7 linked regions of the Homo sapiens genome follow. The protein of the gene in region 1 purifies or fractionates together with the protein of each later gene. This does not show direct contact. Each region holds a gene or a part of one and is shown in the gene's direction. Other genes may lie near its edges.

Region 1 (4,877 bases):
CAGATTCACAAGTAGATGTTACCAAGGAGGCAGAGGCTTTACTTACCTTCATGTGATAATCCAGAGGGTTCACTCTTCTGAAACCAAGGTAGTAGAGAGATTCCAGAAGGTGAGAGTCATCCCAAGGTGTCAAATGTAGCAGAAAGAACCAGAGAGATAAGGCCTGAGGAATGCCTGCAAGGTTTGGCAAAATGAAAGTCATGAGTTGCTCTTGCCTGAGCAAGGTGAAGGGTTAGAGTTGGGGAGGAGAAGCCAGAATGCCAAGTGTTGAGAAATGAGGAAGCAGAGGCAGCCAGGGAAGACCATTGTTTGAGGTCCGCATGAAACACTTGGAAGCTAGTTGGAGGGAGCACTTCAGGAGGAGGTTGGCTTGATAATTTTGTTTTTAGGACTTGGAGAGGCCAACCTGTTTAAAGGCTGAGAGGAAGCAGCAAGGCAAGGAAGCCTGGGAGGTGGGGGAGGAAGATTTTAGGGCCAGACCCCACCCAGACCGTTTTCTTGTGGTTTGCCCAACACTACCACACACCCCTTAATCTCATTTAATCATTTCAACACCACGAGGTTTGAAACAAACGGTGAGGTATGAAACAAAACGGTGAGGCCAGGGATTGGGAAGAGAAAGCTGTGGTTCCATCTCGGTCCAGCGTGCTGTCCACGCCAAGAGGCGGGCAGAAATGCTAGCCTCACACAATCTAGGGGACCAGGGGTGGCTGTGGCGCCCTCCTGCCCGCAGGAGGTGTTATCAGTGTCGCGGACTCGGGCGGTGTGCTGCCCCTGGTGAGATGTCATCACGTGCGTGGACCAGGGGTGGCGGCCCTGGTAAGTGTCCAGGGACTAAGGGCTCCCTGCTCTCCAGGTGTGGTGGACGGGGTCCGCATGCATGCCGTCCTCTTCTCTAAGACGCTAAGGCGGCTGAGTTCTGTAAGTAGCGGCAAGAAGAACAGTCACGGAGCGGGCCGGGCACAAAGGGCGCAGGCCAGGTGGCCCCAGGCGGAAAGATGGCCGCAGCCAGAGGCTGCAGGTGGCCGGGCGCGCTCCCTGCGCGCGTCGCGGAGAGGACGCAGCGAAAATCAAACCCGCGATTTGGAAATCCGGCTGCGGCCCTACCCCGAGATAAGTCTTCTGCGGAGGGAAGTATTTAATTTGCATCCAGGACGGTCGGAAGAGGCGCCTTCCCGTCGGAGGCGAGGCGCGGGCGCGTGGGAGCTTTCTCGTGTGCGCTCCTCCCTGTCCTCCGCCTGCGGCCGGGGCGCAGAGTCCGTGGTCATATGAGAATGACAGTTTTTTGTCTGTTTGTTTTGGCGGGGGCGAGGGTGGCTAAAGGAATGAAAGAGCCTTGCATTAGGAGCTGGGCTCTGGTTTCCTCTCCACCATTCTAGCACAAGCTTCCTCCATGACCATGACTCTGGGCAACGTCTGTCTAGTCACTGAGCCTCAGTTTCCCTGTTCATAAAATGGGAGATTGGACTATGATGTTGTCATAGCCCAAAGGGGATGAAGTGGGATTTGCCGTTCCATTTCATCCCACCAGAAAAGCCGCCCTCCATTAGCCACCCCGGGCTGACACCCAGCGTTTTTGGACGGCCTCGCCTCCCCTTACCTGCCTCTTTCTTTCTTTTGCCCGTTCGAGGGTGGCAAAGGCGATGGGTGGGCGGGGCCTATAAATCGCCCCGCCCCTCCCCGCCCCTTCCCCGCCTCCTGACGTCGCCCGCGCCCCTCCGCCCTCCGCGCGGGGATGAAGCCACCACGTGACCTCACATCCGGCGCGGGAGTCCTGAGCCCGCGCGCGCTCCCCCGCCTGCCTGCCGGCTCTCCCCGCAGCGTGATCGGGCGCCGCCGCGGAGGGGAGGGGGGTTCTCTACGTCGCTGGCGGCGGGGGGGCCGTTTCGGAGTGCAGACCGCCCCCCTCCCCTGCCCACCTCCCGCCGCCCTCCCTTGTTCTCGCCCTGCCGGCTGCACGCCGCCGCCGCGGGCGCGGAGGAGGAGGAGAGCGCGGACGTCCCAGGGCCGGCCCGGCCCCGCCGCGGCGCCTCCTTCCCTCACCCTGAGCCGCAGCGCGCGGCGCCGGCCGAGGGCGATGGGGCTGGGCTGAGGCGAGGCGGCGGCGGCGACAGCGGCGGCCGGGTCCCCCGCGGTCCCTGGGGCTGGTCCGGCCGCGAGGGAGGCCGCGGAGGAGGCGGCGCGGCGGCGGCCAGTGAGCGGCCCCGGTGAGCGGGGCGAGGGGCGGGTGGGCAGCGGCGCCGGGGGAGGTCGAGGAGGCGAATGGTGGTGTCGGGGCGGCGGGTACCGGGCGAGGTCGCGGCCAGCCTTCTCGGGCCGGAGTTGGGCATCGCGGGGACGGGGAGTGTCGGGGGCAGGTGAGGCCAGGGCAGGAGCCCACGCGGTGGGTGCGAAGGCCTGGGGGGGACGCGCCGCCTGCCGGGGGCGAGCGTGGGGGCCGGGCGCTTGGTGGTTGGTAGTCAGAGCTTTCGGAAAGTCCTGTGGGAGGTGGAGGTCCTGTGGGCAGAGGCGTAGGGGTGCTGGCAGGGCCCTCGATGAGTCTGTGCGGGACCCTAGCTCGTCCTCAGCCGTGGAGTATGGAGCTGCTTGCCATCTCCGCATTTCACAGATAAAAGGAGTGAGTCCCGTGGAGGAAAAGTGACTTCTGACTTGCCTGAGGCCTCCCACTCGGACTCTGTGGCAGTGAGGACTAGAAAAACCCAGGGCCCTTTGCCCTAGCAGTGCTCTCGTGGCCACTCTCGCTATGGCCTTTCTGTCTCTCCATTCCCTTCACAGAGTCAGGTTCTGGTGGAAGTATGACCTCTGGCTTTTTTGGGGAGGTGAGGGGTAGGGATGAAGGGGGAGGGAATCGGGTTGGGATTGGCAGGAACTCAGCTGGGGGCTTCCCGGTGTGGAAGAAGCTTTGTGACAGGTGTTTATTGTTTCCTCTTCCCATAGATCTGACAGACATCCCTGAATCTTGGTGTTTGGACATAGGAGGTATGAATCACTCACATAATTAGCCGCTTTTAATCATCAGTGTCTTAGAGCTATATTTAGTGGTTATATTAGTGCAAAATGAATGGGTGTGGAGTCGTACACCTAGAAACAGACTTGTGTTCCTCTATACGATTCTAACTAAATGAGTAGAACATACCTGGGTATGTCATGGCTACTTTAGATCTATGAGGCAGGAAGTTAGAATTTAAGGAATCTAAGAAATGCAGGGACTTGAAAGATTATTGCAAAATAAAGCCTTTAAAAAGTATCGTTGTTAAAATGAAAGTGTTTCGATTTGATTCCTTTGAAGGGTGAGTACGTAATGAACAGTGCTCTATCTTTGGTTAGAGCTCAGCCTCTTTACCAAGGTACATGTATTAATTTTGTTTCACTGGAATATATGTGACATTATTTTCTCTAGAGGTTTGTTGCTTTGCTTAATAGACTACAGTTGCCAAAAATCAATGTGTGTGGGCATCTCATCCTGGTTTGCAACCCCTTTAAGGCAAATCAGTGCTTGGAAGTTGTTCGAAGTAGTAAACCTATTATTAATGATTGTTGTAGAACATAACTTTTGCTGGTATCTTTGATTTGCATTATCCTACCATTAGATCAGGCAGAGAGTGAAATAATTGAGATTTTGAGCCTTGTTAGAACAACAATGCCTGGCTTTGGTCAGGGGATTGGGTAGGAAAAGTGACACTATTTGGTTGCTTTAAATTTTTTTTTTTTTTTTTGAGATGGCATCTTGCTCTGTTGCCCAGGCTGGAGTGCAGTGGTGTGAACTCGGCTCACTGTAACTTCTGCCTCCTGGGTTTCAGCGATTCTCCTGTCGCAGCCTCCTAAGTAGCTGGGATTTCAGGTGTGTGCCACCACGCCCAGCTAATTTTTTGTATTTTTAGTAGAGACAGGGTTTCACCACGTTGGCCAGGCTGGTCGTGAACTACTGACTTCAGGTGATCTTCCTGCCTAGGCCTCCCAAAGTGCTGGTATTACAGGCGCTAGCCACCGAGCTTGGCGGTTGATACTTACATAGTTAGTTTAGGTCACCAAATATACAACACACAGAATCCGCTTTGGATAAACCACATTATCGAGCTCATTTTGAAATCCTATTTCTGTCTTCAAGATTTTCGAGATTATAAACCACTTTGTTGTCATTCACAAGTATAAAGTTCTTATTTCCAACATCACTGAGACTGAGAAAAAAGACAGAATAAAGATAAAGTTCCATAGGGCGTCCCCATCACTGCTTATTCTCACTGAGTTTGACCATTGAGTAGGTTGTATATCCATAGTAATATGATATAGTGCCTATGTCCTAAGATTACTATTTATCTTAGGAATAAAGCATATTCATATTCTAAAACCTCATATTCACAGTAGTTACAAAACCACCACGTTATACAAGCATAGTTTGATTCAATATATGGAATGGAAGAAGGAAAGAAACCATTATGTGCCAGGAAAAGTGCTCCTTTCTTTACATATGGTCTCAACTAATCCTCAACACTTTCAGGTAACAATATTCTTCTTTGTTAAAAAAAAAATTAAAGAAGTTAAGGAGCTTACAGTATAAGCGACTTTGAAGACAGACAGAAACCTAGCTCTGTGTTAATGTGCTTAACACAGAGGTTTCTGTCTCTGGGTTTATAAGGTTAGTTGTATGTGACTAGGCAACATAACATCTCTGAACCTCAGATTCTGGTGATAAATCAGATATGTCATCTTAATAGGTGTCACACACTAGATCACCTTCTTTTAGCACACAACTGTGAACTGTTTTGACTGTTTTCTTTGATAGGTGATAAGCTGCCAACTCCTATTCCATTTATCATCCATTCAAATATAGCTCAGTTTAACTCTTAGATATGTTGTACTCATCCTTTTCTCCCTTC
Region 2 (4,134 bases), on another chromosome or scaffold:
ATTTGTGTTCAGCTGTAGATTAACACCAAAGCCTAGCTTTCTGGATTTTCCCCTCAAAGGTGGGCGGCAGCATAGCGTGGCCGGCGGGGGACGGTTCAAAGTGAGACCGTGGAGCTAGACAGGCCTGGGTTTCTTCATCATCCTCCTCCTCACTAGTTGTGTGACCTTGTGCAAGTCATGTACCTTCTTTAAGCTGGTTTCTTCATCTGTAAACGTGAACAAAAGTACCTACAACATGGGGTTATTAGAAGGTTTAAATGAGATAATGCATCCAGTATATCTAATGCACTGCCAGGCAGCTAGTATGTTCTCAATAAATGTTACTGACATCTTTATTAAGTTCCTTGGAAAAATGCTTTGTAAATTCAAGTATTACAATTTGTTTTTCCTACCTCCCATTCCAGACATGCCTCTAGAGACTGTTACACTCTTTGTAAAAAATCATGTTTTTCCCTCTCAATATAAAGTAAAAAATACATAGAAATAACGTTTGGAATAAATACTGAAAAATCAAGATTAAAAATTTCCCATGGATTCATCACCTAAAAAAGCCATTGTTAGCCTTTTAGTGAATTTCTTTTTTTTTCTACTCATAGTTTTAAAAAATATGGTTGTTATAATCTTAGTTTATATGATTTTTGTCCTTTATTTAACAGTGCATGAGCATGTTCCTCCATAAGCTATTGATTACTGTAACTAACCTTCCCTTGCTATTATATATTTAGATGACATCTAGTTTTTTCTGTCACAGAATGACAAAGGACATCTTTGCATATAGAAACATTTCCATGTTTAGGTGTATTTCCACAGCATAGGATTCCAGAAATAAATTATGTCAGAGGGTATGAACTATTTTGCTGACTTTCTCTTTCAAAAAGTCATAACAGTATCACAAATTTGCAGCCCATCTGAAATTTCCTAAATCAGAATTGTCATATTGAATTATGAGTGATGCTTAGAAGGGTCCTTGGGAAGTGCAGAAGCAGACATTTTTGTCCCTTTTAGATGAGACTATTTTTAGACTTTTCTTTTTAGTAGGAGGCTAAAGTAGCTTAAGCTATTAAGGTTTGTTATGCTTATGTCTGCAGGAAGAAGTAGCTAAAAACTTGTTAGCTGAATTTAACTTGGGATGTGATGTTCACCAAACTGAGCATGTGTATCGAGTCTATGTGGCCACGTTTCTTGGGTTTGGTGGCAATGCTGCTCGACAGAGATACGAAGACAGAATATTTGCCAACACCATTCAAAAGAACAGGTAAAGCACCTTTCACTACTTGGCAGTCATTTGCAAACCTAGGTCTCTCCTCATAAAAAACAGACCCAGGCAAAGTGGGAAGAACTCAATTAGCAAAAGTGTGTTGCACTGTTAGCTTTTTATTCCCCCACTAGCTGAGCAGGGAGAAGAGATGAAAGCACACCAGGGTCCTGCCTTTGGCCCTCTGTCCCACCGTGCCCTGAAGGAGGTGTGTGCGTGCGCTCTCTCACCCGCATCTCAACTGATGGATTAGAAATTTCACCATCAAGCTATAGAATAGTTTGGAGCCCTGGGTGGTGCTATTCATGATTCAGAGTCCTTGGGAAACCCAGTATCTGGAGCACTCGTGGTGTCCTGGAGGCCTCAGGTAGTGTGTTCTCTTGTTGCTGAGGAGATTGAAATATGTGATGTTCTGGAGACTCTGTGGATGAAGCAGCCAGTGCAGCTAGTTAGTGGATAAGAACCATCGTGAAGGGAATTATTCAAGAGAAATAAATTATCTAGAAGAGTCAGAGTTAGTGGCTTTTGAATTTAGCAATGAAGCTTTAAAAAATGAGTGTATGAAGAATTGTGGTATAGAAAATATATAAAACAAAACAGCACTCTATTGGTTTAAATTGACTGTATAAGTGTAAGTATATAGCACTTATTTATTTGAAATTTGTAAGAACATAAAAGCTATTTGGATAAATAAAAAAATCTGAATCTGGGGTTATGTAAGCTATCCTATTTATTACTGTGTTTTATTTGTTTATTTTGATGAAACAATTTTGAGGGAAAAAAATCCTAGTTCATAGAGCTAAGAGATTGTATACTTCCTTGATTAATGTAATCTTAATAAACCTGTGAAGGCCTGAACTTGAAAAAAGACCAAGTTGGAGCTATTCAGTACATTTACCACAAAGTCATGTGTGTAAATAGGAAAAGCAATAAAAACCTTTTCCTGTGTCTCTTCCAAAAGTTAACTGAATAGTTTTAATTATAAGATTGGTAGTCCCATGATTTTGTATTTTTAATTGGTATTTAGCACATTTTGGTATAATCATTTTTATAGTAGTCTTAAACTAGAAATATTTTATAGACAACATTTGTAACATATTTTTTCCGAAACCTTAATTTTTACTCATTGGTTTTAATGTCAGAAAGCTTTATATAATGGATAGTTTAGTGGTACTTCTTAATTTAGATATAGGACAACTAAAAATAATAGCATGAAATATATATTTGACTACTCTTGGACTTTTATAGTAATTACAGGTGTTTCATATGTCATGAATTGAGCATTGAAGTACACATTTATCTCTTCGCCATTTGTAGTGGTGATTAATTTTTTTAAATTAAGCGAACATTTTTATGGCAAAGACCTTAATTTATTACATTCAACTGCATGATGAGTAACCCTGATCTGAGGAATACACAACTTGTGAGTTGAGTGAAAAGTGAAAACTTGACTGTCGGTGATGAATATTGAATTCTGACCATGCTTAACCCTTTAACAGTTCAACACCTGTCAGGCCCCTGTGATTTCACAGTATCCAACACCAACATCACTTGAGATTTTGTGAGCTCTTCTCTGTTTCTTGTTGCTTGAAGGCATGCACACACAATAGGATGACAGATGTTAACTCCCAGAAATTTCATTAGCAAGTAATAAGCCTAGTGCCTTTCAGTTAACAAAATTAATGTTTATTTTCTACAGGGCATCTCAGAGCCCATTGTACAATGGAAACTGCTGTCTGCTGCAGTTGGGACCCATAGCTGATCAAGGAAAGAAATAAGTTGAAACAGAATGATAAAAATAGAGCCAAGCCTTAGACATTCTGTCTTAACTTCTGTATTCATTTGCTAATCTTTTCCTCTGAACCAAGGTCTGTTTTTAGACTCCATCCTTTCTTTGGCATGCACTGCACCCCTCATTGAGATACCAGTTTGTCTTTGTTTAAAGAATACTGAGGACTTAAAAGAGATTTGCAAGGCAATTTGATACCAAATCCTTCTAGATGTTTGCTAATTTTTCCCAGTTTTAAAAATCCTACCCACACCTAGTTTGATAATTTTCTAGTAACTTTTCTAAAGCATCTAACCTGCTTTGCCCAGGACCGGATCTTGTCACAGTCACGTTCCTTCCATCTGTATTAGGTAAAACCACAAGCACTAGTGCAAAAATGGGGCTGGTAACACAGTTGCCTTGTGCCCAGCAGCTGGGAACATCAGGCCTTGTTGCCAGGATCGTCGGCTAATCGGGTAGGTTATCCAACTGGACTCTGGTAGCCTGTCTGCTGCAGGCAAGTTTGTATCCTGACTCTCCAAGAAAGTCTCAAGTGTGTATTTTCCTAACTAATTATCTCGGAACCCTTTTCTGTTCCACAGACACGGTCCTGCAGGTCTCATGTCCCACAGAGCGTATTTTGAGAAACACTGGTTTGCAGCCACTTCCTGAAAACACAGTTTTCTGTAGGACTCACGATGAAGTTTCTTGTTTTGCCATAGGCTCCTGGGTAAACAGACTGGTCTGACTCCTGATATGCCGTACTTGGACCCCTGCCTACCCCTAGACATTAAAGATGAAATCCAGCAAAATGGACAAACCATATACCTACGAGGGACTGGAGACTTTGACCTGTGTCGAGAGACTATCCAGCCTTTCATGAATAAAACAAACGAGACCCAGACTTCCCTCAATGGGGTCTACCAGCCCCCAATTCACTTCCAGAACAGTGAATTCTATGGCTTCTCCGAATTCTACTACTGCACCGAGGATGTGTTACGAATGGGGGGAGACTACAATGCTGCTAAATTTACTAAAGCTGCAAAGGTACCCTTGAGAGACGCCGTCTGCTCTGCATGCTTTTGAGAGACCAGTGTGGACGGTGACGGGT
Region 3 (4,134 bases), on another chromosome or scaffold:
AAGAAGCTTCCCCTAGACTGGACTAGATGTCCCTATACCTACTGCCATAGTACCCTTCACCTACTTCCCCTGTAACAACACTACCACATTGTTTGGTAATTACTTGTTTATCTCCTCCATAGATTATAAACTCCTTGAGAGTAGCATTCATGCTCTCATTTGCCATTCTATCCCTTGGACCTGGCACATATTAGGCACTAATAAATATTTGTTAAATGATTAAAAGGGTGAATAAATGATCCAAGAAAGGTGTCTTTTATAGTTAATTCTTTAATAACTGTCCTGCTGATGGCCATCTTTTTTTTTTAACAGTAGCTAATTTTCAACCCAGAAGTCACTTTTTTAAAAGCAACTGTTAACTAACTCATGTTTTGAGCCCTCTATACCGTCATAAGACTTATCAGTTCCAGAGTACACTCTTAAGTCCTAAGGTCAAGACTCTGTACAATTCTGAAAGTATCAAGTCTCATTTTTAATAAGAAGCTATACGCCTTCCATTTTATTTGCAAAGCTATTTGAAATTGCATTTTGCTTCTGCTTTCTTTTTGGATCCTCTATAATCTTGCCAGAATTTGTGTTTACTTGGATGTAAATGAATTCTCCAGCTACTTGTGTGTGTGTGTGTGTGTGTAGTTTAAGTCTTTTTTTTTTTTTCAACTTTTATTTTATTTTAGATTTGGTACTTGTGCCGGGTATATTGTGGGAGCTCAGGTTTGGGGTACAAATGATCCGGTCACCCAGGTACTGAGCATAGTACTCAATAATTAGTTTTTCAACCCTTCCCCCTTCTCCCCTCCCCTGCCCCCAAGTAGTCTCCAGTTTCTGTTTTTGCCATCTTTATGTTGGTGAGTACCCAATATTTAGCTCCCACTTAGAAGTGAGAACATGTGGTATTTGGTTTTCTGTTCTTGCATTAATTTGCTTAGGATGATGGCCTCTAGCTGCATCTATGTTGCTGCAAAGGACATAATTTTGTTCTGAAAGTCTTTTTAAGCTTTTCTTTTTCAATGTGAAAGGAGGCCACAATGAAATATTAAAGGTATATATCTGTTTCTCTTTTCTTCCATTCCCCTCCCCACCATATAAACTTAAAATTTTTGCTTGTTTTCTCTTCCATTTCATAGCAATCTTGGTGATTTTTTTTTTAATCATCCATTTCCACTATACATACCACCCTCAGTCCTAACTGCCCAACTTCTCTGTCTTCAGTCGTGGCTTCATAAGTCATATAAATATGGTCTCTAAACTCTGAATTTACATCTGTCTCCACCGGTAAATATTTATAATAGCCAAAGGATATCCTGGACATTTTCTCCTAATCTGTTTGACCCTTTCCTTTTCTGCTTGATCTAGATGCTTGGATCCAACTTACTTTCTTACACCCTCTTGTTCGTTTACCTTCATGTATATATAAGTCCACACTTGGATCACTGCTATAGTTTGTTTACTACTAATACAGAGGCCTGAAGGCTACTATAGAAAATCACATAGCTGTGTAGTTTGCCAACGCCAGGAGTTTAACCCTCAGCTCACTGAATTATTCCTTTTCTTGACCTTAATCAGCTACTTGTTTCATTCCCCTCAAAGTTTCTCCGAATCTTTGTCACTCTCCTCAAAGCTCCTTTTTCTAACTCACCTCTCTTACTCTTAGCAGATAACCTTGCCTCGTACTTACTCAACAAAAGTGAAGCCAAAAGGTATGATCTCCTACTATGAATACTTTCTGCATTTTAATCTAAAAGGTTATCTGTGTTCACAACCATTCTTACCTCCTTTCCTCCCATTTCAGAAAACGGGGTTCCCCTACTCCGGTTTAAAGCCATTCTACCTACCTTTGATCTTAGAGTAGCGTATTTTGAAGTGGTTAAAAGCACAGATTTTCTAAACAGACAGACTCAATAAGAGCTGAAAAAATAATATTTAAAAAAAAGCACAGATTTTGGAGTCAAACAAGCTTGAGTTCAATCTTGATTCTGACACTTACTATAAATTGATTAACTTCTCTAAACCTCATCTTTCTCCGTGAAAATAGGATAATCAAACCACTGTACTGAGTTTTTAATTATTTTTATAAGATTATAATGCTAAGTACTACTTAGAGAGCCTGTAGTATAGTAAATGCTCAATAAAAGTTACCTAATCATATTAATAATAGTATTATCAGTTTATCCTCTAGTATTCCACCATCCTTCTCATCTTTTTCTCCTTACTTGACTGCTTTCTTTCCCCTTGGCCAATAAACTTTCCCTTTATTCCACATTCTTCTCTAGCCTATTATCTAATGTTTTCTTTTTTTCTCATTCCTGGCTCTCCCTAGAGTAATTTGCATTTACTGTCCCCACTGCTTTAGCTCCCATTCATTCTGACCTGCTACACTCTGGTTCCTGCCTCTACCTCACTATTCAAAATTGTTTTCCTTATCCTCTAGTGTTTTCTTCTTGGCACATTGCTCTCCTTACTCTAGATACTATTCCCAGGTGATCTCATGTACTTTGGTGGTTTCAACTCATAGGTATATCTTAGACCTGCCTTCACAATCTGTCTTTTATTCCAGATACTTGCTGGATATCTTGATCCATCTTGCTGGCTGTCCCTCAGGCCCTTAGTGTGTTCAAAAATGAGCTCATCATTTTCCCCATCCTCTGCCCCCTTTCCTAAACCTCTTCTTTCTCCAGTATTCTTTATATAAATTGGGTAGCTTCACTCTTCATCCTGTATTCCAAACTAGTCATCCTTGACTTCTCCCTGTTGATTTTACCTTCTAAATAGTTCTCAAATCTGTTTTCTCCTCTTCTGTCACCAAATGTCTTAATTCAGGGCTTTATCATCTTTCATCTGAATTCCCATAACACATTTCTATAATGTTTCTCTTTCTACACTGTTGTTTCCTTCAAGTGTGTCTTCCATACAGCCACCATACCGCTCTATATAATATAAAACAAATCAGACCATGCCATTTCCCTGCTTAAATAACCCTCATCACCTACAGACTATAATCTAAGCTCCTTAGGGTGGCCTTCAAAGCTCTCAGTGATTGGACATCCACTCCTCCTGTCTAGCCTCATTTTTAACCTCTTCCTTCTTTGAATTTCATCTTCTAGCAGCACCAAACCATGTGTAGTTCCCGGCATATACCATGCTATTCACTCTGCGCCTTTACTCATGCCCTTTGCTATCTGGAAAGCCCTGTCCTCCTACCCCTACCACCTGTTTTTACCCTACCTGATTCGTTTTTTGTTTGTTTGTTTTGTTTTGAGACAGGGTTTCGCTCTGTCACCCAGGCTGGAATGCAGTGACATGCTCACAGCTCACTATAACGTCTACCTGCCAGGCTCAAGTGGCCCTTCCACTTCAGCCTCCCCATAAGCTGGAACTACAGGCACGCACCACCATACCTAGCTAATTTTTGTATTTTTTGTAGAGATGGGGTTTCACCACGTTGCCCAAGCTGGTCTCGAACTCCTGGGCTCAAGCGATCTACCCAAAGTGCTGGGATTACAGACGTGAGCCACCATGTCCAGCCTCCCTACTTGATTCTTATTCATCCTTTGAGAGGATGGTTTTTATGTTAGGGGTGGTGGAAACCTTTGACTGTGTGATGAATACCTTGAAACCACTCTAGAAAAATGCACATAACCCCAAAATGTGCATACAATATCAGGTTTTAACCCCAAATTAAAACTTCCTTCGGCTCGGGCATTATCTTCTCCAGAAAATCTGTCCTAACCCCTTACAGATTGGTTTGGTCTCCCTCTTTCATATTGTTTTACAATATCATGTATGTATTTCTATCATTGCACATCCATATTATGTTATAATTATTTATGTACTGTCTTCACTATATTGTGAGCTCCTAGAGGGTAGTAACCATCCTATTCATCTTTGTATCCTCAGCACTTAGCATAGCACGTAGGAGTTATTACAGAAAATTTAAGATTGAATGCTGAAGAATAAACCATCTTTTATGTAGACCACTTAGCCATTCAGCAAGCACTTATGGAGAGCCTGCTACGTACCAGGCTTTGTGCTGGATGCCAAGGATACAAAGATTACAAGACAAACATGGTTTTTGTCCTCATAGAGCTTATAATCTAATGTCAAAAAATATTTAAATCACACATTACAAAACTGTAT
Region 4 (4,134 bases), on another chromosome or scaffold:
GAGAGGGTGTCTTAGATAGCAAAGGTGGATGGTAAGAAATGGATCATGGTTCAGGGTTCTTAACTCCAAGAAGGGAGAAGTCAGTCTTTAGTATAGAAGTAGAGCAGGTATACTCTGTGCTGGTTGAAAGCATAAGTAGATGTAAATTGGGGACAGAAGTTTTTCTTAATCAGAAAAAGAAGGACTGTTAGAAGACTGAACAGAAGGCAGAATCCTTCCTAATCCAATACTTTTTTAGCTTCAGCTTAACAACGAAAGGCCAGACTTACACTAGACTTTAAACAGGTATGAAACTGGGGAAGACGCAACCAGGAACTTACCCGGAATGTCATCTTCATAATTCCTGCCATTGCCATTGTTTTAAATTATTGGATGCTCAAATGAGGGTTTGGTAAATGTCACACGTTTTGTGCAGTCTCCTTTATTCTGGAAAGGAGGTCTGATGGTTATGGGACAAAGCCGCATTCACATTTATTTTTTTTTTGAGATGAAGTCTTGCTCTGTCGCCCAGGCTGGAGTGCAATGGCGTGATCTCGGCTCACCACAACCTCCCCCTCCTGGATTCAAGCGATTCTCCTGCCTCAGCCTCCCGAGTAGCTGGGATCACAAGCATGTGGCACCACGCCCAGCTAATTTATTTTTTATTTTTTTGTATTTTTAGTAGAGATAGAATTTCACTGTATTGGCCAGGCTGGTCTCGAACTCCTGACCTCAGGTGATGCACCTGCCTTGGCCTCCCAGAATGCTGGGATTACAGGCGTGAGCCACCGTGCCTGGCCCACATTCACATTTCTGAATGGTGTTTGACCTCTAAATCTTTGGTGAAACGCCTTTCATCACTCCTATTTTGAAATATAATCATAATAATCATGTAACATTTCCTAGAGCTTGGGCAACTCAAATTCATTATTCTTTGTGTGAGAATCAGTTTGGAAAGGAAGCGCTGGAACTCTGAAACCTGGCTTCATGCATGGGCTTGGGAAGGTCTGCAGTGGCTGCCAGGCTGTAGGAAAGAGGAAGCTTAAAGCATGAACTCTTTCTTCAACAGCTGTTTATTACGTGTTTAATAGGTGTCAGGTCCCACAGATGCAACTGTGAGCAAAACAAGATACAGTTTAAATAGTTATAGTTTTCAAATGGGTTTACAAGGGAAACCCCATGACTGGCAGATACCCATTTTCTTCTAATGACTGAATAAGAGGAAATATCTTAAAAGGAGTATAATTTGTTTCAACATTGTCATGGAACAATCCATCTACCTGTCTTCTTTTCCTTGGCACACTCTTGCTCCACAAAGATTTCCCATTGGTTTCATTGTTTGTCGTTATCTTGTTTCTCCGATCTAATTTGCTCTACTTCTTCCTTTGATCCTAAGTCCTACCTTTCAGTCACCATTCCTTCATCCATTCACACATACATGATACATCCATCTGTCCTCTATCCACCCCCAATCCCTTCATTTATTCAACAAATAGTGTTGAGTATCATGTCTCAGGCACTGTATATTATAGATATAGCAATAAACGGGAAACTGGTTTTTCCTTAAAGAAGCTTAAGAACTATCAGGAAGACAATGTGGAGACAGCCTCTAAACCATGGGGGTATGACTTTTTTTGGGGGGTGGGCAGGGTCTCGCTCTGTCACCCAGGCTGGAGGGCAGTGGCGCCATCATGGCTCACTGCAACCTCTAACTCCTAAGCTCAAGCATCCTCCTGCCTCAGCCCCCCTCCCCCAGCAGCTGGGACTGCAGGCGTGAGCCACCGCGCCTGCCCTGGCGGTATCACTTCTAATAGAAGCATTTATTGGCCAATGAAACAGGATACTTCTTTCATTGAACAATTTTATAAATTGTTCACACACAGCATAAACTGTGCTGGGCAGGGAGGGATCAAGTGGTTAGCTGTTGACTGTTGTCCATTTTATATATTTTTTGTACCTTCCATGCTGGTTGAGCATAAGGATGGTAAACATTTGTTAATTAACTAAATGGGAAGAGTGGAATTTCTAACGCAGGAGACACAGAGGAAGAGAAGGCTTGTGTATTCTCTTTCTGAAAGAACAATCTGAGAGAGAGAATCTCTCAAGGTTCCCATTCATAGTGAATTACTCATAGATTTCCAGGTGACAACAGCTCCCCCCACATCGACTCAAAGTATAGCATTTTAAAAAAGAAAAACTACCTGCGTCCAATTACATACCCATTAGTTCACTGAATATCCTCATGTCCTTTGGAGCTGATTTCCCATAATACACTGCAAGTCTCTGTCTTGTTCTGATAAAAACAAGTGGGTTTCAACCCCCTACAGCTTTCTTAATAGTAACAGCAGTGCATCCAGAAACTAGTGGTGGCTCTAGAGACCCAACACGAACAGTGTTGAGACCTCGTTGCAGCACTTTCTCTGTGTTTTCTGATGTCATGAAACTCTTCTTAGTAGAATTATTTTCCCCCACTTAAGTTCCACCGTCAGCCTGGAAATTATATGGACAACATGACAAAGTTCCTCTGGAAAACCACACTCCTCTGCTTGGCTGACCTTGGGAGAAAACATTTAGCAAGTTCTTCTTTTTCTTGGTTATTTTAAACTCAGATGATATCAGCATGAAGCTGTTCCTAATAACTCTGGTTGGCACGGGCATCTCTGCTCTGTTTAGGTTAAACATCATAACTACTTCATGGTCATTTCTGTGTGGGATCCTCCAAGACGAGAGGTGCATTTTGAATTTTATGTTAGTTTGAAGCCAGACACTAAAATTCCTGTAAGGAGAGGGGAACAACACACACCAGGGCCTGTTGGAGAGTGGGGTGAGGGGAGGGAACTTAGAGGATGGGTCAGTAGGTGCAGCAAACCATCATGGCACACGCATACCTATGTAACAAACCTGCACATTCTGCACATGTATCCCGTTTTGTTTTTTTATAGAAGAGAAAAGAAATTCTTGTAGGAGATGATGCCTCAGTCTAGTTTATGCCAGGTAACCTGCAGAGGTCATTAGAGACACTGAGGTGACTGGCTGACTTACAGGATATGCAAGAATGATGACAGCCTGCCTTCACTGAGGGCCTCCTATGTGCCAGTACATGGACTTCACATTTATTAACTCATTTTAGCCTCATAACAAAGCTAGTGTGTGAAAACTCTCATCGTGCTCCATTTTACAGAGAGAGAAAGTAAAGATGAGGGAGATTAAGCAGCTCAGCTAGGTCATAAGAAGGAGCAGAGCTGAGACGTTAACCCAGATCATCTGGGCTCTGCTTTCCCCTGTACCTTCACACCTTGCCATGGCATATTCCACAGTCTGTCTCCCATGCCCAGTGCAGAGCCTGGCACATAACAGATATGTGGTAAATTTATTTTTTAGTTTTGTTTAAAATGTTAAAAGTGAGACTGGTCTTTCTTTTAAGAGGCCAGTCTCACTTTGTTGCTCAAGCTGGCCTTGAATTCCTGGGCTCAAGCAATCCTCCCGCTTCAGCTTCCCAAGTAGCTGGGACTACAGGTGTGTACTAACATGCCCAGCTAATATTTTTCTTTTCTTTTTTTTTTTGAGACAGAGTTTTGTTCTTGTTGCCCAGGCTGGAGTGCAATGGCGCAGTCTTGGCTCACTGCAACCTCTGCCTCCTGGGTTCAAGCGATTCTCCTGCCTCAGCCTCCTGAGTAGCTGGGACTATAGGGGTGCGCCACCACACCTGGCTAATTTTTTTGCGTGTGTATTTTTAGTAGAGACAGGGTTTCCCCATGTTGGCCAGGCTGGTCTCGAACTCCTGACTTCAAGCAATCTGCCCAGTGTGGCCTCCCAAAGTGCTAGGATTACAGATGTGAGCCACTGCGCCCGTTCCCCAGCTAATATTTTTCAAATAATGAACAAATCTCTACCGTGTAGACCTCTGCATGCCTTTCATCCCAGTTGTTAAGAACAGCAAAATTACTGCAAGAAAGGGTAGTATTTTAGAATTTGGAGAAAAACTAACAGCAGTACTTTATAAGACAAGCTACTATAGTTTTCAGGGAGTGTTGTTTTTATTATGGTTTAGCCAGAGATGGTGGGAGAAGGGAAAGGGCCTTGTGATTAAAACCATCTGAGTGACAATGCAGTACATACATTAAATTAAAGATGAACTCTTCTCAAAACCAATGT
Region 5 (4,134 bases), on another chromosome or scaffold:
TTAAAAGCAGCCTTTCCATAATAAATAAACTTTTCCCCAGAGAATGAAATATGTGTTTAGTCAAAGCCTTATGAATATATTATTTTTAAAAGAGAAAAGGTTAATCTGATTTAGCAAAATATATGTATATATACCTCCTTTCTTTTTTTCTTTTTTCTTTTTTTTTTGGCCAGGCCCTGATTACGTCAAACAGAGATTTCAGGAAGGTGTAGATGCTAAAGAAAATCCAGAAGAAAAGGTACCAGAAAAGCCACCTACACCAAAGGAGTCTCCTCATTTTTATCGCAAAGGCACGACACCCCCAAGATCTCCTGAGGCAAGTCCCAAACACAGCCACTCTCCTGCTTCCTCCCCAAAGCCCCTGAAGAAGCAAAACCCCAGCTCAGGGGCGAGACTCAACCAAGACAAAAGGAGTGTGGCTGATGAGCAGGTGACGGCCATTGTCAATAAGCCCTTGATGTCAAAGGCTCCCACGAAGGAGGCAGGAGCGGTTGTGCCCCAGTCCAAGTACTCTGGCCGCCACCACATCCCCAACCCCAGTAACGGGGAGCTGCATTCTCAGTATCACGGCTACTACGTGAAGCTGAACGCCCCCCAGCACCCTCCAGTAGACGTGGAGGACGGCGATGGATCCAGCCAGTCTTCCTCAGCACTGGTGCACAAGCCATCCGCTAACAAGTGGAGTCCCTCCAAATCTGTGACAAAACCAGTTGCCAAAGAAAGCAAAGCTGAGCCAAAAGCTAAGAAGTCTGAACTTGCTATACCAAAGAATCCAGCAAGCAACGATTCATGCCCTGCTTTGGAAAAAGAAGCCAATTCAGTAAGTACTGCAAGTAGCGTTTTCTCTTTCTTTCTTCCCTTTGTTTCTTTCAGCGAGCTGTGTGGGGTGACTGTGCATCTTGATCACAGCCAGGCTAACCAAGGTTCTAGAAGCACAGGGTTGTTTAGAGCAGCACATAACACATTGGTAGCTTGAGACAGCAAAGAGCTCTCTGGGCAGAAATTCCCCCCACCACCCCTATGTTCACCCAGCCCCACTTTAGATGTAATTCAGGTAGGTAAGACCTGACCAGCTTAGCACAGCATCTTAGCACATTTTAGCAAGGCTTTAACAGCGTGTCTTGGTGAGCTTCCTGGTAGCTTGCTCTCTGATTGCTGGAAAGGAATCATGACCCCTGCCAAGGGCCAGCCGCTCTCAGAGCTCTAGGAAAAGGGCACCAACAAGTTCTTAGTTCTCCTGTTTTCACCACAGCGGTCAGCATCTTTACACAAAAGAACGTCTCCTCTAGCCGTTGTGAATTCTTCTCATACATACGTAGTTTGGACTTTAATTAGCCAGGCTTTGCAGCTAGAACATTTTTCTTTCCCAAAAGAGAACTGAAAATTTCCAACAGTTCAAGAGAATTTCTTTGGTCTTCTGTCTTTTCAAAGTGTGAGAACTCTTACAATTTCAGTTTTCTGGTAGATGCAGGTTATTAGTATCAATTAGTCTTAAGCATTTAAGATATTTATTTATTATTCAGCCAGAAAAGCTCTGTGTTATTGAAAAATCTTTATACCTTCTTTAAAAGGAGATTTTTTGAATAATGTATGGAATTAGTGTTTTATCAAATGCTATAGTATTTATAAAATCTGAAGCTAATTATTGATTAAAAAATGACCTCTTGACCTGATCACATCCCTTTAGAACAGAGGTGTTGAAAGTTACACACCTAGTATTCACTAGAAATTATAGAGACATATTTGCATAATGGTGTGGATTAATATCTTGGCCAACAAGAATATAGTACAGCCATCAGTTTCTTATTTTTGTCTGTTTGATTTACTCACAGGATTAAACAATTAAAATTCCTCTGTTAACTTATGCTTAAAATTTCTTGTGTGTTTATTTTGCTAATATCTATAAAACACTGGTTCTCTTCTTTTTTCAAATTTTCAACTTTTTAATTAGCTAAACATAAATTATTCAGATTAACTGGACCAACTTCCTAGGAGTCCACCTGCATGGAGAAAAATTGTTTTCAAAACAGACTAACTTTAAGATTCTGACTCTTCAGTAAGCATTCATTTTAAAGATTTTAAACCTTAATATGACAGTATCTTGACATTACAACTATAATAATCACTATTGAATTTGTTAAATGTAATAGCTTACTTCTCATTTGACTTTCAGCATGTTTATCCCCAGGTTAATAAGGCCTCGCATATATCAGTGTTAGTTTGCCTGATTTACACAGGGAAAAATTCAAACAATGCAAGGCCATACCTTTTATACCTTTGGGTACCCATTTGTGGGCTTTAGTTGACTTCTAGACTTCTACAAGGGGAAGTGTATGCCCCAGCGTCCTATACATTAGGCTGTGATAGGGGGAAAAAAAAGTTGAATTACCCAGCTCTTAGCTGAAAGAGTCTCTCTGTAAAACAGTAGTATACGTATGTTTGGTAAATTCACAGCCTCCTCATTTAGAAAAAACATCTGTTTTACTTATTTGCGGAATTCTCAGATTCTTGGAGTTAGACAAGCATCCTCCATCTCAGTAGTTGGTCCTTAGGGTACCCCTCTACACCCCAAGGGGGAAGGGAAGCCCCAGCAGCTCCGCAGCTACCCTGAGCTTTAGACTGCCTCTGCAAAATTCAAGACCGACTTGACACCTTCACGCGAAGATTCTAATAATTAACATTGTCTTCCCAATAGTAACAGAACGCTGCCGTCCCCACTCCTCAGAGTTAGGAAGTGGCACAGTCATCATAAATGTTGTCAGTGGATGACCTTTAAGATAATGGAGTACTACATAGTTTTGAGAGAAAGACACTGTATAAGTTAGACATTCGTGAATAATTTTAAAATTCACAGAATTGAACTCTGTTGCTGAACTTCCTCGGTTCACATCCCAGCTCTGTTGCTTACCAGCTGTGTGACCCTGGACAGTTTCCTAACTGCTCTGTGCCTTGGTTTCCTCATCTGTACCTATCACAGGGTTGTTGTGAAGATTAAATGAGTCAATACTTTAAAAGTTCTTAGCATAGTGCCTAGCGCAGAATAAATGCTCAAAAAACCTTGGCTATTATGATGTTTGTTTCAACACAATGCTAACTGAAGCATAAGCAGTTCAGAAATATTCAAGTAGATCTGATCCATCCTCAGGATCACCCTGGCTATTGATCTCCTAGAAATACAGAAAATCTCCTGGGATGGAGACTAACACAGGAAATTAGTTAACTCGAGTATGAGAGGTAGGAGAAGGGAGGCTGTGGCATTGATTACTTTCTTGAGGAAGATTTTCCTCAAGAAACTTTTGTGACCCCTGTGGGCAATGGTTGCGTATGGACTCATGTCCTAGGGGCACGCATTCAATGTGATCCCGAAATTTTTGTAGAGTTTTGCAACATGACAACTCTGGTAGGGTCAGAAGAGGCATCTTTAGCGTCTTACCATCAAGTAGACAAGAGGGGAATTTTCCAATTAGGTATCTCAGCCCATTCTGAAAAATGACTACACTTTTTTCTCAGCCATTCCTGTGATTTGCATCCAAGTTTGTTTTGAGGTTCATCTAATCTTTCTTTTGAATTTGTGTAAAATTTAAAGCGTCCCCATCAAATTGGGTTTGAACCTCACCCCCGAAAGAGGTAAATATATATAATTAAACTTTGCTGTTAATACTTAATTAAACTTTGTTCTTCTCTTGTGTTTCTAGCTAGAGAAGCTTTAGATTTCACATAAACCATAGTAACTCTTCTAGCAGAAAATTCCTTACAGTTTTAAATATGAGTGACAATCTCTTAAAGGAAAAAAAGATAATTTTTTGAGTTAGGATTTCTTTCTGTATTTTGATTTCCTGTTTTTTATTTTCTTACCACCTGGAAAATTTCTTCCAATCAAGACTTACCCTGTGCCCTGCTACAGCTTCTTGTATTACACCTGTCCCAGTCAGTCTTGAAAAGCAAGACAGATTTTTTTTTCATTTTGCTATTTTAAGCTACAACTGGCCACCACAGTCGTATTTATGAGACTTTACCTTAAAGCTTTTCACCCCATATCCTGTGCCTAGGTATATAAAGAACACAGAGGCCAGGGCTTGGTATCTGCCACTGAACAGAGCATCCCGGATTTTTATTTTTCCCCTGGTTGCTGTT
Region 6 (4,134 bases), on another chromosome or scaffold:
AAAATAAAAAAATTTTAAAAGCTTATAGGATAAGTATATAAAGAAAATATTTGATAAAGCTGTCCAGTGTGTTTGTGCTTTAAGCTAAGTGTTATTACAAAAGAGTCGAAAGTAAAAAAAAAAAAAATTAAACGTTTATGAAGTAAAAAAGTTACAGCAAGCTGAGGTTAATTAATAAATTATTATTATTGTTTCAGAGACAGGGTCTTGTTTTGTCTCCCAGGCTAGAGTACAGTGGTGCAATCATAGCTCACTGTAACCTTGAACTCCTGGGCTCAAGCAGTCCTCCTGCCTCGGCCTCCCAAAGCATTGAGATTACAATGAGCCACTGTCTGGCTATGTTGATTTATTGTTGAAGAAATAAAACTATTTTTTATAAATTTAGTGTAGCCTAAGTTTACAGTGTTTATAAAATCGACAGTAGTGCAGTGTCCTAAGTCTTCACATCTACTCAACACTCATTCACCGACTCACCCAGAGCAACTTCCAGTCCTGCAAGCTCCATTCATGATAAGTGCCCCATACAGGTGCACCATTTTTTAATCTTTTATATTGTGTTTTTACTGTACCTTTTCTATGTTCAGATATGTTTAGATACACAAGTACTTACCATTGTGTTACAATTGCCTACAGTATTCAGTACAGTAACATGCTGTACAGGTGTGTGGCCTAGGAGCAACAGGCTACACCATACAGCTCAGGTGTTTGGTAGGCTACATCAGCTAGGTGTGTGTAAGTGACTCTATGATGGTCACACAACGATGAAGTCACAATGATGACTCATTTCTCAGAATGTATCACCATCCTTAACATCATTAAACATTCATGTATTTACTGGATTCAGCAATATCTTTTGAACTGCTGTCCCCCAAATTACTTAATTATTCCCTTTTTTCTCTTAGGAAATGCTACAGTGAATATTTAAAATTCTATGTAATTATTAATCCCAAACCTTTGTGGATATAGAAATCAACATTTATATAGTCTGCATTTTACAAGTTATTTAAACATTTGTGTTGTTAAGCTGCTCAAAAGCCGGTTGGCAAGGTCTGCATTTTATGCACAGGAAAAAGGAGAAGATCATTCCATGTAAAGGAGATTCATCTGAAGACAAGCAGGATTGTGTACAAGTAGAGAGAAATGTGCTTTTTTATGATGTATCATGTATAAAGGCCTGTTCCCAAATTTCTGAAGCACATGGAAGTTCTGGTGTAAAAAGTATATCTAGTTAAGACAGCTGTAGGCTGGGAGCCTGTGAAAGGAAGATTTTGCTTGTTAATAGAATGACTGAGACTACATCATCCTGTGTAGAAACCAGGGAATAACACTTGTACTGTGTTGTGTTAAGAAAACAGGTTCTTTAATTAAGTGATGTACCTGAAATTTCAGGTAATGACTACAGCTCTCCTGAACACCCAGGAGGGCGGTGACACTGAGTCACAGGCAGAACTATGAAATTCCTTGTGAAACTCAACTTTCTGTTCTTCCAGCCTTTCCCCTCCCGCCCCTCGGCTCAGCCACAGGTGCTCATTAAACCTCGCCCAGGGAGCATACCTCCAAAGCTTTTTCACAGGCATGTGGCCCACCTTTGGATTCCGACCCTATGGTCCTGGGAAGTCTGCATTTGGAGCGTGTACCTGAAGGGTGTTAAGCACATTTAACCTCTGCTAAGATAATCAGACAGACACCCCTAGAAAGAGATATAGAAGTAAGGTGTTGACTATTCTGGGGTTTGTATTTCAGCAGGACCCCCAAAGTTTGAGCTGAAAGGACTAAGTTCTGTGGGGAGGTATCAGCCAGAGGTGGGGACCTCTTTTGGGATACCTGTGCCTTCCCACCGTGAGCCGCTGTGCCCTCTGCCTCTGCTGCAGGCCAGCCGTGCTGCATTCCATATGTAAAGCTGTGTCGTGCTTTCCTTCTTTCCCTCAGAATCCTCCACGTCTGTTGTGTGAGAACGACATTTCACTAAGGAGGACAGACAGTTAGCTTCTGTCAGAGAAGAATGTCAGAGCTCTTTCATTTTGTAGATGCTGCCTTTAGCTTGCTTTCTGTGTATGTTATGTTCTTCTACCCTTGGGATATTTTGACACCAGTGGCATTGTTTTCCATTTTCTCAGTGCCAGAGAAGCTGGGATGTTGTAGAAAATATTTGGTTTCAAGGTTAAAAAATGTTATTTCTTTTCTTTTTAGATCTTATCTAAGCTTTCTTTGCCTACCCGTGCCTGGGAACCAGCAATGAAGAAGAGTTTTGCTTTTGACAATGTTGGCTATGAAGGTGGTCTGGATGGCCTGGGCCCTTCTTCTCAGGTGGCCACCAGCACAGTCAGGATCTTGGGCATGACTTGCCAGTCATGTGTGAAGTCCATTGAGGACAGGATTTCCAATTTGAAAGGCATCATCAGCATGAAGGTTTCCCTGGAACAAGGCAGTGCCACTGTGAAATATGTGCCATCGGTTGTGTGCCTGCAACAGGTTTGCCATCAAATTGGGGACATGGGCTTCGAGGCCAGCATTGCAGAAGGAAAGGCAGCCTCCTGGCCCTCAAGGTCCTTGCCTGCCCAGGAGGCTGTGGTCAAGCTCCGGGTGGAGGGCATGACCTGCCAGTCCTGTGTCAGCTCCATTGAAGGCAAGGTCCGGAAACTGCAAGGAGTAGTGAGAGTCAAAGTCTCACTCAGCAACCAAGAGGCCGTCATCACTTATCAGCCTTATCTCATTCAGCCCGAAGACCTCAGGGACCATGTAAATGACATGGGATTTGAAGCTGCCATCAAGAGCAAAGTGGCTCCCTTAAGCCTGGGACCAATTGATATTGAGCGGTTACAAAGCACTAACCCAAAGAGACCTTTATCTTCTGCTAACCAGAATTTTAATAATTCTGAGACCTTGGGGCACCAAGGAAGCCATGTGGTCACCCTCCAACTGAGAATAGATGGAATGCATTGTAAGTCTTGCGTCTTGAATATTGAAGAAAATATTGGCCAGCTCCTAGGGGTTCAAAGTATTCAAGTGTCCTTGGAGAACAAAACTGCCCAAGTAAAGTATGACCCTTCTTGTACCAGCCCAGTGGCTCTGCAGAGGGCTATCGAGGCACTTCCACCTGGGAATTTTAAAGTTTCTCTTCCTGATGGAGCCGAAGGGAGTGGGACAGATCACAGGTCTTCCAGTTCTCATTCCCCTGGCTCCCCACCGAGAAACCAGGTCCAGGGCACATGCAGTACCACTCTGATTGCCATTGCCGGCATGACCTGTGCATCCTGTGTCCATTCCATTGAAGGCATGATCTCCCAACTGGAAGGGGTGCAGCAAATATCGGTGTCTTTGGCCGAAGGGACTGCAACAGTTCTTTATAATCCCTCTGTAATTAGCCCAGAAGAACTCAGAGCTGCTATAGAAGACATGGGATTTGAGGCTTCAGTCGTTTCTGGTACGTAGTGTGTTTGAGGCATGTCCTGAGCTTGTCTCCTTTTCTCTTTGTGTCTTATAGCTCCTGGATGGTGGTATAGGTGAGCCCTGCTCCCTGCCTCCCATGTCAACAGTGGAACAAAATCCTGCAAACTTTCCTTGCATGTTAAATTTGTTAAGATAGAGGAAATATAATCTCCAAGTGTCTAGATTTTGCTTTTCATGTAGTTGGGATTTTGTATTAGTCTGTTTTGTGTTGCTTATAACAGAATGGCTGAATTTGGGTAATTTATAAAGATATGGAATTTGTTTCTTATAGTTACTGAGAAGTCTAAGGTTGAGGGCCACATCTGGTGAGAGCCTTCTGCCAGTGGGGACTCCGGTGCCACAGGGCATCACATGGCAGGGGTGCTGAGCATGCTCACGTGGTTGCTTAGGTGGCTCTTCCTCTTTTTAGAAAGCCTCGATGCCACACCTGTGATAACCCATTAATCCATGAGTGGATTCCATTCATGAGGGTAGAACCCTCATGATCCAGTCACTTCTTAAAGCCCTCACCTTTTAACACTGCCACATTGGGGATTATGTTTCCAACACATGAAATTTGGGGGACACAGTCAAACCATGGCTGACTTGAATGCGAACCTCCTTGGATTTGGGCTTCTTTTCTGGAGAGAATTCTGATTCTGTATCCTGAAATAGAGCACTGTGGGACCATCCAGGCCCTTTTCT
Region 7 (4,134 bases), on another chromosome or scaffold:
GTAAATCTGATCTTTTCAGAGGCCTTCTCCCCCAGATCCTTACAGCTGTACCGTGAGATAAGGTTTACTCTTGACAGTGTTAAGGTGTATTAGGAGCTAAAATCCCATCACGTTTACTTTCACCAGGATAACTTTTTCCTGCTGATGACTTGGGCTGGGGTGGAGGCTGATGGAGATAGGGGTAATTCTGGGGTTAAATGCAAGCAGTGTAGACTCTGCAGTCTATTTGGCTGCCGGCCCGGAGGCAGGAGATGGGGGTGGGTGGGGGTAGTTAGACCTGGTAGTTAAACCCTTTCCCGCGGGCGCAGAGTGGGCCTCCCACGCTTCTCTCCCGTGGCCAGTATGCGTGAGAGTGTGAGTTGAGCCCCTGCCTCCGAGGAAGAATTCTAAAAACCGGGCTAAGGGTCGAGCGAGGGAGGCTGACCTTTTCTTGTTATCAAATTACTGCGTTTCCCTGAATTACGGGCACTCAGGAATGGTGAAATCTACATATTAACCGAGGAACACGACCCTCAAAGGAAGGTAGAAGAAGGCTAACGCTCTTGCTAGTTTACTGTGCTTGCTAGTTTACCGTTTGCAGGGCTATTTAGAGCACAATAAGAAGCTTCAAATCTCTTCTCCAACCAGCCAGAGGAACACTTGATTCGCCCAAGACTCTTATTGCTTGCTTTTGAAATATTACCCTGGCTCTGAGCTACAAAGCCACAGATCCAGCCCCATTTGTCTAGTGAGGGCTCTGCCCCAGACCCGGCTCTCCATGCTCACTGCTCCGCCTGAGAGGAACCCTGGGGTTTAACGCTGAAGTGCGTTTCTCAGAGGGCAGAGCTGGAGCATCTCGCAGCCCTACAACTTCTTTGCGGCGCTTGGTCTGTCTTTGCGTTGCGAGATCAGGATCGGTGTGTTGCTCAGACACCGGCCGAACGCCACCGGCACGTCTAGGAGTCTCCTGTGCCTGGAAGAGGCTGGTTTCATTCGATTCTAAAAGAAACGGGTAAAGTGTAGATTTTAAGAAATAACCTAGATTTCAAAAGCTTAAAAACCAACCAAGTTTGGTTGTGGACAGTCAACAAACTAAAATTATTTCGGGAACTGCTTCCAGTTTAAAGTTTTTTTTTTTTTTTTTTTTTTTTTAAGCAAAGCAGTTTCTACTCTCTCCACATCACCTTTGAGAAATAATCACGAAAAAGTCACTGTTTATTAAATAATTTTAGTTGCTTTAAACCTTTTCTGGGAAAAGCTTAGGAATAAGTATATTAAAAAAGGCTACTCTAAAAAAAAAAAAAAAAAGACCATACCCAATCTCTGAATTTCTGGCATCCTTGAAAAATACCGATTCTTCCTACAGTCCCACACTCTTTCAAAAAAAACTTTGTCATAAAATAGTAACATGGATCAGTATTTTAAAAACATGTTTGGGGGCGTTAGAGGGCACTATGTAGAGTGTTTATTGCAGCCTTTTTTTTTTTTTTCTGAATTTTTATAAAACTGAAATGACCTTTTAAAGAAAAAAACTCTTGGGGGCAATTCATTGTTATTACTTCCAGTGATAGAAAATAGATTGTTTGTTTAAACTTGGATTGTATAATGAAAATATAAAATAGGCAATTAAATACTCATGGAAGAGGAAATCAAAGGCAAACATTGAGTGAAAATAACATTAAGCAGACTATTCCCCAGTCATTGGGCCAGTGATTCTTCCTATTGAGTCTGGTTGGAAGACGAATCAGCAGTAGGGATGTTGCTTCTTCCCTTATTCCACTTTCTTGCAAAAGTTACTGTAATGATCTCAGGGGAGCCAGTGATCTTTTCCATTTCAGCTAATATCGAAATATCCAAAGGTTGCTTGCTGTTCTGGGCACAAAATTTAAAGCTTTTAGAGCAACATGCTTCTTCATAAGTTTTGTTATTTTGAATTCACTTTAGAAGTCTGTGTCTAATTTGCACTGGTACTAGATTATGTCTCTATGTCCCCCACATCAAAATATAACTCAAAGAAAGAGAAGCTGTGACATTTGCTTTCATTTCATTTTCATACTTTTTTTTAACACATTAGTTGTTAATATAACTCAAGGAAAGGGAAGCTGTGACATTTGCTTTCATTTCATTTTGATACTTATTTTTTAATACATCAGTTGTTAATATAACTCAAGGAAAGAGAAGCTGTGACATTTGCTTTCATTTCATTTTGATACTTAAATTTTTAACACATTAGTCGTTAATAGACTTCAAACCATAAGCTATTTTTTTTAAATTATTACAGTATTCTTAATTATTTTACTTGTCATATTGACTTAGTGAAAAATTACCTGTACACATTTATTATGAATGTATAAAAGTTTAATTGGCTTTCCTCATTGGATCAAGATACTTTTGTAATCAAGAATTACAAACATTCTATCACATATACTAGGTTTTAAATGGTTAATTGTAAGTACAGTTGAAAGATTATTAGATTATTATACTACTTTGAACTATTTATACGTAATATTGTTTTGATGCTATACAAAGTAGTTAAGGAAAAAGAAAGTAAAACACAAATCCCTTCCATATGAAATAATCAATGATTTATAGCCATGCCTACTTAAACATCTTTAATGATATCCTCCATATTAGATATTTCAAAATGAGGTGTGAAATTCTGAAAATAAAATTAAAATTGCACAGTATTTCATGAATAATAAGAATGGAACTAGTATAAAAATTAAACCTGTAAGGACTTGTTGGAATTTTACACTAGAGAGACCCAGACAGCACCGTAATTTAGAAGTTTACTAAAATTAAAAAAAGAGGCTATGAGGGAATGTTACATGAAGCCACAGAAATCTTGTTTCTTGGTGACTATATTTTTATATAGTGGAAGAACTTATGTTTGTACTTCTTCCTTAAGAAATATTTCAGGTGGTAATACCAAGGCAAGAAGCAAGAGCTCACAAAACTACACAGCTGGTTATCTTTTTTATTTGAGGGTAGTCAGAATGAGTGTGTAGGTAGGAAGAAGGAGGGCTTGATTTGGGAATCTTGGCTAGAAAAGTGGATTTACTTTTTCCTTTAAAGCATTACATGTTGGATATACCTGAAAATTGATTATACTAGGGAAAACAGACCCTTGCCAGAGACATTAGCTTGTATTGACATAATAATATGAATGACATTTTCACACAGGAACTTACAAAATACTAGAAAATGATATTAACACATGCTTAAAAGCTTGGTGCTTGCTTCCATATAAAGAATTTGTTTTATGGGGCACCATAGTTTATTAAAACTTGGTGTGTGCTTCTTCCTTGTTTAATGATGCCAAACATCCAAATAGTATTTGCTGTGGTAAGCATAAGTAGAACTTACAAATTTTATTAGCTAAGTGGTGATCAGATTTGTTCAACTTAGTATTTGAAACACACTTCAACTGTTATGCTTTGGAATGATAAATAACTATAACAAATTGTACAGGTATTAACACTTATATGTAGAAACAATCATTGTCCTATTTATCTTCACAAAACCTTTATTTCTTATAATTTGTATCCTGTTTCTTATATTGCATGGTTTAGATGTTGAAACATTTGTAGCAGATATACTGAAAGGAGAAAATTTATCCAAGAAAGCAAAGGAAAAGAGAGAATCCCTTATTAAGAAGATAAAAGATGTAAAGTCTATGTAAGTCACTTACCTTTTGTTTACTGATTTCTTACATAGAAGCAGTTTTGTAACTAACATTTTAATAAGAAATCGATTATTATGGAGTTAAATTTTTCATGTTCCAGTTTAACTGATGTTAAGTATTTTTGAAGGGCAAAAAATATATTTCCACTATATAGTTTTTAAACACAGATATGCTTATCATAGTACCCTTCTTGATTATGTATTTTTCTGAGCATTCTAGCAGAGTTCAGCTGTTTATTTTGATTATCTGAGGGTATATTTGGTTTAAATGATAAGACAAAGGTGGATTGAGGACTTTAATATACAGAAAATACCTGACACTGAAGAAAGAGAATTCTTTTGTTACTACTTTAAATGAATAAATGTAATATATTTACATGTCATAAGTATTAAAGATATATCCTCATTTTACTACTGTACTTAGATCCTTAAAAATTATTTTATTTAAAATTTTTAAGCATTTTGGAATTG

Evidence for each region.
Region 2: the proteins of ATP13A3 (region 1) and ENTPD4 purify together in Homo sapiens (affinity purification with mass spectrometry; one large-scale study listed by BioGRID and IntAct). This does not show direct contact.
Region 3: the proteins of ATP13A3 (region 1) and GPR89A purify together in Homo sapiens (affinity purification with mass spectrometry, with the first as the bait; one large-scale study listed by BioGRID). This does not show direct contact.
Region 4: the proteins of ATP13A3 (region 1) and AGPAT4 purify together in Homo sapiens (affinity purification with mass spectrometry; one large-scale study listed by BioGRID and IntAct). This does not show direct contact.
Region 5: the proteins of ATP13A3 (region 1) and JPH1 purify together in Homo sapiens (affinity purification with mass spectrometry; one large-scale study listed by BioGRID and IntAct). This does not show direct contact.
Region 6: the proteins of ATP13A3 (region 1) and ATP7B fractionate together in Homo sapiens (co-fractionation; one large-scale study listed by BioGRID). This does not show direct contact.
Region 7: the proteins of ATP13A3 (region 1) and SKAP2 purify together in Homo sapiens (affinity purification with mass spectrometry; one large-scale study listed by BioGRID and IntAct). This does not show direct contact.

What each region holds. Positions count from the first base shown.
Region 1 is NC_000003.12:194,483,896-194,488,772, reverse strand, and holds the start of ATP13A3 (polyamine-transporting ATPase 13A3), read left to right. Parts: upstream 1-1,770; 5' UTR 1,771-2,207; intron 2,208-2,225; exon of another isoform or gene 2,226-2,357; intron 2,358-2,536; exon of another isoform or gene 2,537-2,819; intron 2,820-2,937; 5' UTR 2,938-2,979; intron 2,980-4,877. UniProt on the Homo sapiens protein: ATP-driven pump involved in endocytosis-dependent polyamine transport. Uses ATP as an energy source to transfer polyamine precursor putrescine from the endosomal compartment to the cytosol.
Region 2 is NC_000008.11:23,436,870-23,441,003, reverse strand, and holds part of ENTPD4 (ectonucleoside triphosphate diphosphohydrolase 4), read left to right. Parts: intron 1-1,088; coding exon 1,089-1,255; intron 1,256-3,745; coding exon 3,746-4,070; intron 4,071-4,134.
Region 3 is NC_000001.11:145,610,551-145,614,684, forward strand, and holds part of GPR89A (Golgi pH regulator A), read left to right. Parts: intron 1-1,651; exon of another isoform or gene 1,652-1,697; intron 1,698-4,134. UniProt on the Homo sapiens protein: Voltage-gated channel that enables the transfer of anions such as iodide, chloride, bromide and fluoride which may function in counter-ion conductance and participates in Golgi acidification.
Region 4 is NC_000006.12:161,267,132-161,271,265, reverse strand, and holds part of AGPAT4 (1-acyl-sn-glycerol-3-phosphate acyltransferase delta), read left to right. Parts: intron 1-4,134. UniProt on the Homo sapiens protein: Converts 1-acyl-sn-glycerol-3-phosphate (lysophosphatidic acid or LPA) into 1,2-diacyl-sn-glycerol-3-phosphate (phosphatidic acid or PA) by incorporating an acyl moiety at the sn-2 position of the glycerol backbone.
Region 5 is NC_000008.11:74,241,215-74,245,348, reverse strand, and holds part of JPH1 (junctophilin-1), read left to right. Parts: intron 1-173; coding exon 174-820; intron 821-4,134. UniProt on the Homo sapiens protein: Junctophilins contribute to the formation of junctional membrane complexes (JMCs) which link the plasma membrane with the endoplasmic or sarcoplasmic reticulum in excitable cells.
Region 6 is NC_000013.11:51,973,225-51,977,358, reverse strand, and holds part of ATP7B (copper-transporting ATPase 2), read left to right. Parts: intron 1-2,190; coding exon 2,191-3,424; intron 3,425-4,134. UniProt on the Homo sapiens protein: Copper ion transmembrane transporter involved in the export of copper out of the cells. It is involved in copper homeostasis in the liver, where it ensures the efflux of copper from hepatocytes into the bile in response to copper overload.
Region 7 is NC_000007.14:26,854,308-26,858,441, reverse strand, and holds part of SKAP2 (src kinase-associated phosphoprotein 2), read left to right. Parts: intron 1-718; exon of another isoform or gene 719-991; intron 992-3,551; coding exon 3,552-3,657; intron 3,658-4,134. UniProt on the Homo sapiens protein: May be involved in B-cell and macrophage adhesion processes. In B-cells, may act by coupling the B-cell receptor (BCR) to integrin activation. May play a role in src signaling pathway.